3 linked regions of the Homo sapiens genome follow. The protein of the gene in region 3 purifies or fractionates together with the protein of the main gene of each other region. This does not show direct contact. Each region holds a gene or a part of one and is shown on either strand. Other genes may lie near its edges. The genes, in order: DAPK1, FAM120A and IFI30.

What was found.
Region 1: the proteins of IFI30 (region 3) and DAPK1 purify together in Homo sapiens (affinity purification with mass spectrometry; 5 studies listed by BioGRID and IntAct, with this or other methods). This does not show direct contact.
Region 2: the proteins of IFI30 (region 3) and FAM120A purify together in Homo sapiens (affinity purification with mass spectrometry; 3 studies listed by BioGRID and IntAct, with this or other methods). This does not show direct contact.

Annotation. Positions count from the first base shown.
Region 1 is NC_000009.12:87,495,720-87,499,467, forward strand, and holds the start of DAPK1 (death-associated protein kinase 1), read left to right. Parts: upstream 1-2,147; 5' UTR 2,148-2,388; exon of another isoform or gene 2,389-2,653; intron 2,654-2,862; exon of another isoform or gene 2,863-2,917; intron 2,918-3,250; 5' UTR 3,251-3,358; coding exon 3,359-3,420; intron 3,421-3,748. UniProt on the Homo sapiens protein: Calcium/calmodulin-dependent serine/threonine kinase involved in multiple cellular signaling pathways that trigger cell survival, apoptosis, and autophagy.
Region 2 is NC_000009.12:93,454,617-93,458,364, forward strand, and holds part of FAM120A (constitutive coactivator of PPAR-gamma-like protein 1), read left to right. Parts: intron 1-3,748. UniProt on the Homo sapiens protein: Component of the oxidative stress-induced survival signaling. May regulate the activation of SRC family protein kinases. May act as a scaffolding protein enabling SRC family protein kinases to phosphorylate and activate PI3-kinase.
Region 3 is NC_000019.10:18,171,893-18,175,640, reverse strand, and holds the start of IFI30 (gamma-interferon-inducible lysosomal thiol reductase preproprotein), read right to left. Parts: upstream 1,829-3,748; 5' UTR 1,800-1,828; coding exon 1,668-1,799; intron 602-1,667; coding exon 419-601; intron 331-418; coding exon 256-330; intron 37-255; coding exon 1-36. UniProt on the Homo sapiens protein: Lysosomal thiol reductase that can reduce protein disulfide bonds. May facilitate the complete unfolding of proteins destined for lysosomal degradation. Plays an important role in antigen processing.

The sequences.
Region 1 (3,748 bases), on a different chromosome or scaffold from region 3:
TTTGCATTTTCCCAGATGAATCACTCTTTTTTTGTTGTTGTTGTTATTTTTGACTGTATTTCTCACCTCTCAAGACCCTTTTGTATTATCAAGCCCACTGCTTAAGCTAATACCATCTCCCAATTTGGGGACTTCCCCTTGATTCCTGTGTGCCCTTCCTGTGGGTCATTAATGCAATGTTATTTAAGACTAGGATTTGGCTGGGCGCAGTGGCTCACGCCTGTAATCCCAGCACTGTGGGAGGCCGAGCCGGGAGGATCACCTGAGGTCAGGAGTTCAAGACCAGCCTGACCAACATGGTGAAACCACGTCTCTACTAAAAATACAAAATTAGCCGGGCATAGTCACATGCCTGTAATCCCAGCTACTGGGTAGCCTGAGGCAGGAGAATCGCTTGAACCCGGGAGGCGGAGGCGGAGTTTGCAGTGAGCCAAGATTTCACAACTGCACTCCAGTCTGGGCCACAAGAGCGAAAACCCGTCTCAAAAAAAAAAAAAAGACTAGGATTTGACATAAGGCCTGAGGGGTATTCTTTTGTTTTGTTTTGCCTTGTTTTCAAGAGGCCAAAATCTTCACAGTTGAAAATTTCTGTTGAACCACAGAGATTTGAACCAACTCAGTTTAGAAAGCCTGGGGATTTGAACAACGGTATGGATCGGAAATCTCTTCATCTGTCAGTTTTCATCATTCTAGGCAGTAAAATAGATTTCCCTTTAGGAGCTTTTCACCGTTTGGGGTTCTCCAGCAGTGGGATGTGGGGAATCAACCCTTCTTCGTCTCCACCCAAACATTAGGTGGGAGCAAGGGGTGGGAAGTAGAGAAAGTGGATAGAGGTCTCCAGTGGATATGGGATCTTTGTGTAGACCAGCACAGTCCTCAGAAATCTCATGCAAGCAACATAGGTACTGTTATATTTTCTAGTGGCCACCTTTTAAAAAGTAAACAGGTGAGGCCGGGCGCGGTGGCTCACGCCTGTAATCCCAGCACTTTGGGAGGCCCAGGCGGGCGGATCACGAGGTCAAGAGATGGAGACCATCCTGGTCGACACGGTGAAACCCCGTCTCTACTAAAAATACAAAAATTAGCTGGGCATGGTGACGCGCGACTGTAGTCCTAGCTACTGGGGAGGCCGAGGCAGGAGAATCACTTGAACCCTGGAGGTGGAGGTTGCCACGCTCCACTACACTCCAGCCTGGCGACAGAGTGAGACTCCGTCTCAAAAAAAAGAAAGTAAACAGGTGAAATTAATTTTAATAATATATTTTGTTTAACCCAACGTATCCAAAATACTATCATTTGAAAGTGTAATGAATATAAAAATATTCATGAGATATTTTTCATTCTCATATCCATACTGTCTTGGACTCTAATGTGTATTTTACACTTACAGCACAATTAATTTGGGACTAGCTACATTTCAGCTCAACAATAGCCAATAGCATATGGGATAGCGCAAATAAACTCTGCGTCTCTGTTGCTTCTTTGGGTCTCGGAGACCTCAACCCTTTCTTCAGATTGCAAACCTTCTTGCCTTCAAGCCTCGGCTCCAACACCAGTCCGGCAGAGGAACCCAGTCTAATGAGGTACGCTCCCTTCCTGCCATTCTCTATTCCATTAACCTGTTTCGTGGTAAACGTAGGACTGATCCTCCAAAATTACCTTATTAATTAGCTTACATATTTATTATCTATCTGTCCCACCAGAATGCAGGTTTCCGGAAGGCAGGGATTTAAAAAAATCTGTTTTGTTCTATGTGATTTTCCCATACCAAGCACCGTGCCCGGCACAAGCTGGGATCCCAGTACACATCTCGGGACGGAAGAACCGTGTTTCCCTAGAACCCAGTCAGAGGGCAGCTTAGCAATGTGTCACAGGTGGGGCGCCCGCGTTCCGGGCGGACGCACTGGCTCCCCGGCCGGCGTGGGTGTGGGGCGAGTGGGTGTGTGCGGGGTGTGCGCGGTAGAGCGCGCCAGCGAGCCCGGAGCGCGGAGCTGGGAGGAGCAGCGAGCGCCGCGCAGAACCCGCAGCGCCGGCCTGGCAGGGCAGCTCGGAGGTGGGTGGGCCGCGCCGCCAGCCCGCTTGCAGGGTCCCCATTGGCCGCCTGCCGGCCGCCCTCCGCCCAAAAGGCGGCAAGGAGCCGAGAGGCTGCTTCGGAGTGTGAGGAGGACAGCCGGACCGAGCCAACGCCGGGGACTTTGTTCCCTCCGCGGAGGGGACTCGGCAACTCGCAGCGGCAGGGTCTGGGGCCGGCGCCTGGGAGGGATCTGCGCCCCCCACTCACTCCCTAGCTGTGTTCCCGCCGCCGCCCCGGCTAGTCTCCGGCGCTGGCGCCTATGGTCGGCCTCCGACAGCGCTCCGGAGGGACCGGGGGAGCTCCCAGGCGCCCGGGTGAGTAGCCAGGCGCGGCTCCCCGGTCCCCCCGACCCCCGGCGCCAGCTTTTGCTTTCCCAGCCAGGGCGCGGTGGGGTTTGTCCGGGCAGTGCCTCGAGCAACTGGGAAGGCCAAGGCGGAGGGAAACTTGGCTTCGGGGAGAAGTGCGATCGCAGCCGGGAGGCTTCCCCAGCCCCGCGGGCCGGGTGAGAACAGGTGGCGCCGGCCCGACCAGGCGCTTTGTGTCGGGGCGCGAGGATCTGGAGCGAACTGCTGCGCCTCGGTGGGCCGCTCCCTTCCCTCCCTTGCTCCCCCGGGCGGCCGCACGCCGGGTCGGCCGGGTAACGGAGAGGGAGTCGCCAGGAATGTGGCTCTGGGGACTGCCTCGCTCGGGGAAGGGGAGAGGGTGGCCACGGTGTTAGGAGAGGCGCGGGAGCCGAGAGGTGGCGCGGGGGTGCCACCGTTGCCGCAGGCTGGAGAGAGATTGCTCCCAGTGAGGCGCGTACCGTCTGGGCGAGGGCTTCATTCTTCCGCGGCGTCCCTGGAGGTGGGAAAGCTGGGTGGGCATGTGTGCAGAGAAAGGGGAGGCGGGGAGGCCAGTCACTTCCGGAGCCGGTTCTGATCCCAACAGACCGCCCAGCGTTTGGGGACGCCGACCTCGGGGTGCCGTGGTGCCCGGCCCCACGCGCGCGCGGGGCTGAGGGGTCGGGGGCGTCCCTGGCCGCCCAGCTTTAACAAAGGGTGCTCCTCTCCACCCCGCGAGGAGGGGCAGCTCCGGAGACCCGGTCTTCAGCGAGCGGGGTCTTAGCGCCGGGGAGGTCTACTTCCTTTTGGGGTTGCCATTTTACTATTATTATTGCCTTTTTTTTTTCTTCAAAAGGACTGGAGACTGATGCATGAGGGGGCTACGGAGGCGCAGGAGCGGTGGTGATGGTCTGGGAAGCGGAGCTGAAGTGCCCTGGGCTTTGGTGAGGCGTGACAGTTTATCATGACCGTGTTCAGGCAGGAAAACGTGGATGATTACTACGACACCGGCGAGGAACTTGGCAGGTAAAGGGGGTACCAGAAGCGTACCCTCCTGGATTGTGGAAATGCATAACGATGGGGCCATTGGGTGGTAAACAAATGCAGTTTGAATCAGGCGTCTCCCTCGCCCTTTCTGGAGATGCGCAAATCATAGAGAAAAGAGTTACTAACCCAGCGGTAAACCGCCTGATCCAAGGGCCTGGGGGTGGAGGAGAGGCAGCAGTTCAGGGCTAGATTATGATGCACAGTATATTGATCCAGTCCCCTGGACAAAATCAGATTTAATTGTCCGTGCTAACTCTTGTCAGCCCTTGCCCTTCTGTGACAACAGGACAAACACTAAGATTATAAT
Region 2 (3,748 bases), on a different chromosome or scaffold from region 3:
TTTAAAAAGCTATAAAAAGCAAACATAATTCTGGGGCTATTTTAAGAAAAGGAAAACAACCCTATGTACTTCCTTGGTCCCTGAGGGTAGTACAATGTTTATTCTATAAGGATGATTTTGAGTCATAAAAATTAATATTCAGCATTCTCTGTTTAAGGGATTGAAACAGTGTATACCATTTAATAAAAGATACCCATAAAGTGGTTAAAACGTTTAAAACCATGATATCACTACATGCCTATTAGAATGGCTAAAAGAGAAAAAAATATGAGCAATACCAAGTGCTAGCAAGAATGCTGAGCAACTGGATCCTTACACATTGCTTGTGGGAATGCAGAATGGCACCACCACTCCAGAAAACAGTGGCACTTTCTTATAAAGTTAAACATACATTTATCATACGATCCAGCAATTCCACTCCTGGGTATTTTCCTAATGAAGACTTTTGTTTGTGCAAAAACTGGTACTCAAATGTCCATAGCAGCTTAATTCATAATAGCCCAAACGTGGAAACAAAGTATCCTTTAATAAGTGAATGGTTAAACTACAGTATAGCCATACTATGGAATACTACTTAGCAATAATAAGGAAGGAATTGCTGGTGTAGGTAACAACTTGCATGAATATTTAATTAAGGTTTTATACTGAGTGAAAGAAGCCAGGTTCAAAAGGGATGATTATAAAACTATAGTGATAGGGACCAATTCAGTGGTGCTGAGAGTAGAGGAGGGGAAGGATGTACACATAAAGGGGACAGCAGGAGAGATCTTTGTGGAGTGATGGAACTGTTCTGTATTCTGATGGTGGTGATGCTACCATACATTAAAATCAGAACTATTCATCCAAAGTAAATGTGTTAATTTTATCATATGATAATTTTTTTAAGATTAAGTAAAAACCACTGGCAAAGGAATTGACATGAACAATTCAGTATATATAATGTTGAGTAAATGAGACATTTATAAAAACTTTAAGCATCTTATTGGTGCTTTCTAGTGTTTTGTAAATTGGCAGAGGGGCATAATTTCCTGTTACCTTTGCTTAGAGAAATCTTTTTTTTTTTTGAGATGGAGTCTCACTCTGTCTCTCAGGCTGGAGTGCAGTGGCGCGATCTCGGCTCACTGCAACCTCCACCTCCTGGGTTCAAGCGATTCTCCTACCTCAGCCTCCCTAGTAGCTGGGATTATAGGCGCCTGCCATCATGCCTGGCTAATCTTTGTATTTTTAGTAGAGGCGGGGTTTCACCATCTTGGCCAGGCTGGTCTTGAGCTCCTGACCTCGTGATCCACCTGCCTCGGCCTCCCAAAGTGCTGGGATTACGGGCGTGAGCCACTGCGCCTGGCCAGGAGAAATCTTTTTTGATTTAGAGATTATTTCTTTTACAGAGTAGTAATTGTATTTTTTTGTTCAGTAGTAGTAATTGTATTTCTTTAACCATTAGAAGTTGGTCTACATGGAAAGACAGCCAGAACAATGAAAATAATAATACTTTGGCCTATGTATTGACTAGTTTTGTGTAGGTCCTAAAATAGCCTAATTTGAACTTGGCTTTAGCTAGTTACTTGGACAGTGTTTCTTCTTGTGTGCCTTGGGTCATTATAACCTTTGAAACTTCAGTGAATGACTTATGTTTATTTTAAAATCTTAGTGGCATGAAGTCACTGGAGCTTTCATAAATGTTTCTGCTATATGACTTGTGGTATCAGTGTAAGGGTTTATAATAAAGTCCTTCAGATCTTCTGAATTTGCTTCCATTGGAATTTTGTTAAATAATGCTCTTACATAAAATGGCGTTCATGCTATAAGTCAGTGGAAGAATGTGAGGTTAGACTATGGTTTAGAATTTTCATGGTTAGCATAATTACATGTTTGTATTTAGAGATGATGGTCTCCCTTCATGTATACTTGATGGGGGAAGAGAATGAACTGGTATCAGACCAGGTGCTTGCTAGATCCTTTCTCACATATTCCATCTCATTTAATCCTCAGAGTGCTTTGTTACCCCATTTTTCATGTGTAAAAACAGGATCTAGTGATTAAGTGACATCTGGGGACAAGTCATTAGTAACCTCAAGACGGAAGTGGAGTGCTAAAGTCAAAGTTCAGCTTCTTTGTGTAAGAATACTTTGTGGGTGTGCCTACCTACAATTCTCACCCCCAGGTCAATTACGATAGCTAACTGCTTCAGCTATGTTTTCTAGTTAGGATAGGAACAGTCATGTTGCTATTCAGAAGAAAAATGTCCATCAGTAGATCCTGGACACTGACAGTACATCTTATTCTTAAGGACCTTTAATTGACTGGAAGATTTTTAAGGTTCAAAACTGACCATATTATACCTCAAACTAGTCACTGTATATATTTCTCTGTTGTACTACTTTTGTCACTAGTTTAATTCACATAGCATAATGTCTTCAAGCTTCTTTCATGTTGTAGATTGTGTCAGAATTTCCTTAACTTTTAAGGCTAAGTAATACTCCACTGTGTATATGTACCACATTTTGTTTATCCATTCATCCACTGGTGGATACTTGGGTTGCTTCCACTTTTTGACTATTGGGAATAATGAATAATGCTTCTATGAGCATAGTATACAAAGAGCTGTTCGAGTTCCTGCTTTCAGTTCTTTTGGGTATATACTCAGAAGTAGGATTGCTGGGTCATATGGTAATTCTGTTTTTCTTTTTAAGGAATGGCCATATATTTTCCACAGTGGCTGTGTAGGCCATATATTTTATGTCATAAGTTATATAATATATATTATTATAATATAGTTCCATTTTTTCACATTAATGTGATTGCACTATACGTTATTCAGCAGTTTGCTTTTTTATTTGTAAGAAATCTTTCCATGTCTATACTTAGAGCTCTAAGTCTTTTCAGTCCCTAAATAGTATTCCATAATTTATCCAACCCCGACAGATGGTATACACATGATATATACACACAGTAGAGCTAAAGGTATGCACATTTTAAAAGCCACGTAGGACCATAGAGTCAACATTACCAGAACTTCAGACTTTGCAAGAAAGCCAGAAACCCAGATTTTTAAAAAAATTATTCCATTTTAAAAATGCCAAGCGAAGGAAAACTTGGTTCTAAGTTAGCTTCAGCTCTTGTGCCACCAATTTGTTATTTGAGCACTGATCTTTATCAACAATTATCATGGTCATCTAAATCTCTTCCTTTTTTTTTTTTTTACTTTAAAATTAAACCTATCAAAAACCACTCTGTCTTTTCCTGTCTGCCTCCTTGAACCTTTTTCAATGATCAAAATGCTTCCATTTCCTGGGGTTACTGCAATATGATGTTTCCTTAAATGCCACAATCCTCTTGGCCACTTCCATAGTATATTCTTCATTATATACTTCTCAATATTACATATTTTGAGGTGAGTGCTAACCCACATGTTTATTTGACATCTCACCATTTCCAAGGCACAGCCTCACTGTCCTCAAACACTTCAGCACCTGGTTTTACATTCTTATATATTATTTATACTGTGTCCCATCAACACAGACACTGACTCTTCACCTCTCTCATCTGGCATCCTGATTCTGCAACTGGAGTGAATTTCTAATTGCACTTTAGATACTCCAGAGCTTGGACCGTATAATTAGTGAGAAAAGTGACCCCACCTTTAACACTTCTGAACGCTGTGTCCCTGTCACTCCTTGCCGCTCCCACCGTCTGTCCCCTGCTTGCCTTCCGCCATTTCTCTTTTCCCATTCTGTTGGCTTCCTTTTTA
Region 3 (3,748 bases):
GGCTAGCTCCATGTCAAGTTCATCCAACACGCAGGCCTGGGGTTTGGAGAGGGGGCAGGAGAGGGCATGAAGAGGGCCTAGGGTACCCTGACACCCTCTCGTAATAATCACCAGTACCCACCCAGGAGATAGGGAATAAAGATGTGATTAAATGGGAGCACACGAGGCAGAAGACAGAGCTGGCATCCTCGTATTTGCCTCCTGTACGTGGGACAGTTTTCCCCCACCCCAGTGTGGGGCCCTGGGGCCGCTCACCTCCACCTTGTTGAATTTGCACTCCTCTTCTCCATGCTGGCACTTGAACTCCCACCTGCCACTGACATTTTGTTCCTGCAAGGCAGCAGGGTGAGAGCCTGCTGGTAGGCTGGGTCCCCTGCTCCCCTGCCCACGTGCCTCAGTTTCCCCAGCGCCCACACACCTGTGCGTTTCCGTAGGGCACCAGCGTGACATTGAGGATCTCCATGACCAACAGCCATGTTGGGAAGAGCTCCCGGATCAGGAAGGCTCGGCAGCCACCGCACAGTGCTTCATAGTAGAGGGTCACATTGACAAGCGGTGCATTGGACTTCTTCAGGGGCCCCCGCAGGTATAGATTGCCTGTCTGTGGATTAGGAAGGCGTGGGAGGCAGGTGTAGCCCTGGGCAGTTCCCCACTTCTCTCAACCCCACTTGGTAGTCTTGTAGAAAGGGGGCTGTGATACGCAATTCATCTTGCACGCCTTCCAGAACTTGCCAGGTGGAATCTTGACTTTGAGACTTTTTTTTTTTTTTTTGAGATGGAGTCTCACTGTCGCTAGGCTGGTGTGCTGCGGCACGATCTCGGCTCACTGCAACACCCGACTCCCTGGTTCAAGCAATTGTCCTGCCTCAGCCTCCTGAGTAGCTGGGATTATAGGCACATGCCACCACACCCAGCTAATTTTTGTATTTTTAGTAGAGACAGGGTTTCTCCATGTAGGCCAGAATGGTCTCGAACTCCTGACCTCGTGATCTGCCTGCCTCAGACTTCCAAAGTGTTGGGATTACAGGCATGAGCCACCGCCTCCGGCCTTGGCCCATGCTCATTTCTTGTCACTTCACCTGGAGACCTTGCCTCTGAGCTGAGCAAGGGATCCACGTGAACCCTTTCCAAGTCCGACTGAATAGAGGCGGCACCTAATAGGTGCTGACTTCCGGCTTCAGCTGAGGGGTGGCGGGTGGCCCATGTCGCTGGAGCGGTGAGCAAGTCGCTCAGCCTCTAGGGCATCTGCCTAATAGGTCCCAAAGACACGCGAGCCCTGCCCTGGCTGGAATGAATGCATCAAGGGTAGCAGCAAGAATGCATGCCGGCGGCCCTTGGCCAGCTGCTGAACTTGTGCCCTGGGCCACAAAAGGAGACCCCAGCTCCTGCCCCAAAAGTACACAGTAGGCGCTCATTGAACCCTTGGGCGGGACTAGGCGGGTGGAGGCAGCTGCGCCTCTCAGATGCGGGATGCGAAAGCGAAACGGCACGGAGGGAGTGTGGCCGCAGCGCCGGGAACTGAACAGGGTTTTTCCAGGAACCCGGCAGGGACAGCGTCCCCTCGGGGCCCTGGTCTTCCCCTGTGAAGTCTGGGGAGAAAGAAGGAGCCGCGTGCCCCGACAGGGCGCCTGTTCCCTCCAGCCTGCCCGCCCTGTCGCCGTCCCTACCTTGTAGTTAACTGGTGGCCCATTCCCAAAGAAGTCTAACGCTTGCAGAGGGGACGCCTGCACCGCCGCCGTGGGGACGTCCAGCAGCAGCAGCAGCGGTGGCAGGAACAGCAGAAGTGGCGACAGGGTCATCGCAGCAGGGGCAAAGGTGTGGCGACTGCAGCGGCTGCCTGGGAAATAAGCGCCTTTAACCAGGCGGCGGTCCCGCCCCTAACCCGGGCCCGCCTCCCGATGCCCACGCCCCTCGGGTCCCGGGCCAGCGTCTCTCCCTCCTCCACTCCTTCCTCTGAGTGTCCCACCCCCACCCCTGCCAGGTGCTGGGTCCCCAGTCACGAGGCCATTGGGCCCCTTGGCAATCAGCCCTGCCCAGGCACGTGAGCCCTGGCGCAAGACTACCTTTAGGGGAGGTGAGGTGGGGCCTTTGAGACAGACACAGGCTGAGAGGAATGGTGGTGTCTCCACGCACCCCTAGACCTTCTAGGGGCGGCTAGGGGACTTGAGGCCCGAGACCCACTCTCAGAGTGGGCCTGTGACCTAACAGGGGTGACGTCGGATGGAGGCTGGGGATGGGATGGAGGCCGGGGTTTTGGGGGAGTAACTGAAATATTCAGGCCCCCGAGAGTGGGCAAGGCCTGTGTGGCCAGGTCTCCTCCCTCCAGTCTCGCCCGTGACCTCCCTCACACCCAACCCCCACATCCTGCCCCTCAACCCTTCCCCCCTCAAACTCCTGACCCCGACGCTCCAGACCCCTCACCGTGGTCCCGTGGGACTGACTCAGGCTTGACCACAGCCACGCCGGAAAGCAGAAGCTGGCGCAGGGAGTGGCGTGTCATTTCTCTAGGGTACCCACCCAGCCCCACTTCTGGCTTGGGGTGAAGAGAACTGGCCTTCCTTCTTTTCATCGTTCAAGGCTTGTGGGGGGTGGGGGGCAACCTGGCCTTCAAGGGACGCCCATGGGGGAGAGAGGCAGCCTGTGCTGTCTGGGATAGGGGTGGGGTGGCTTGGAGTCCACCTGGCTTTGGATTTGAGTGACAGAGCCTCAGCTTTCCCTTCTGTGTAATGGGGAGAAGGATAAGGTTTGGGGAACAAGAGTCACCATGGAGGGCTCAGAGGCAGGTGGGGGAGAGTTGTCCCAGGCTGGGGCTTCTGGATGGCATGGTCAGGCCTTGGTGCCTACACAGGACAGTGGCCCCAACAGTGAAGGCAGAGAGAATAGCCTGGAAAAAAGGCCCAGATGGAGGCTGGAGTGTTGGGGGAATAACTGAGACATTCCAACCCTGCCAGGCCTTACATTCAGGGCAAGACACATCGGATCCTAGGGAAGAAAATGTCCCACACCCAGCTGGAAGATATACCTGAGTCCCCAGCTGTGCCCCCCTCTAGTTGTGGGGAAGACCCTGGCCACACACACAGTAGCTGGTTTGGGAGCCGGAGCTTCTCTGAAGTCCCAGTGGCTGGATGGTCCCCGAGCCCATCCCTCAGACGACCAAACCGTTGGCAAAGGCTCCCCAAGACTCACCACCCCAACTTTGGTGCTTACCCTATGCCGGGTGGGATTGAAGAAATAACCATAAATATAATTGCTACAATTTTTCCAGTAGTTACCAGGCACCAGCCCTATTGGAAGAAATCATAAATGTAACCCTACAATGTATTGCTCTCTGGCTTGGTGCCAGGCATAGAGTGGGCCTACAACCCATTTTATCATTGAACCCTCAGAAGCATCCAGTTGGGGCTGGGGGTAGGTGCTACTGACTCCAGCTGGTAACAAATAAATGGCTGATCAGAGAGGGAAGGCTATTTTGCCAAGGACACACAGCCAGTGGTTGAGTGTTTTTAGAGACCACACGGGATATTCTCTTCCACCCCCAGCTCAGCATAGCTGGGATCATAAAGATGGCAACCTTTCTCCTGTGAGCACCTATGCAGTGAGAGGCACAATCTGGGCTGGAGTTATTTATGGGTTATCTCCAGACAGGACACATGGCAGGGACAGTGCCTGGCAAGGCTAGGGGGCTCTGAGGCTAAGGGAGGCAGGTCCTGTCCCAAGGTCCCAGCAGTAGACTGGGTCAGAGTGGAGG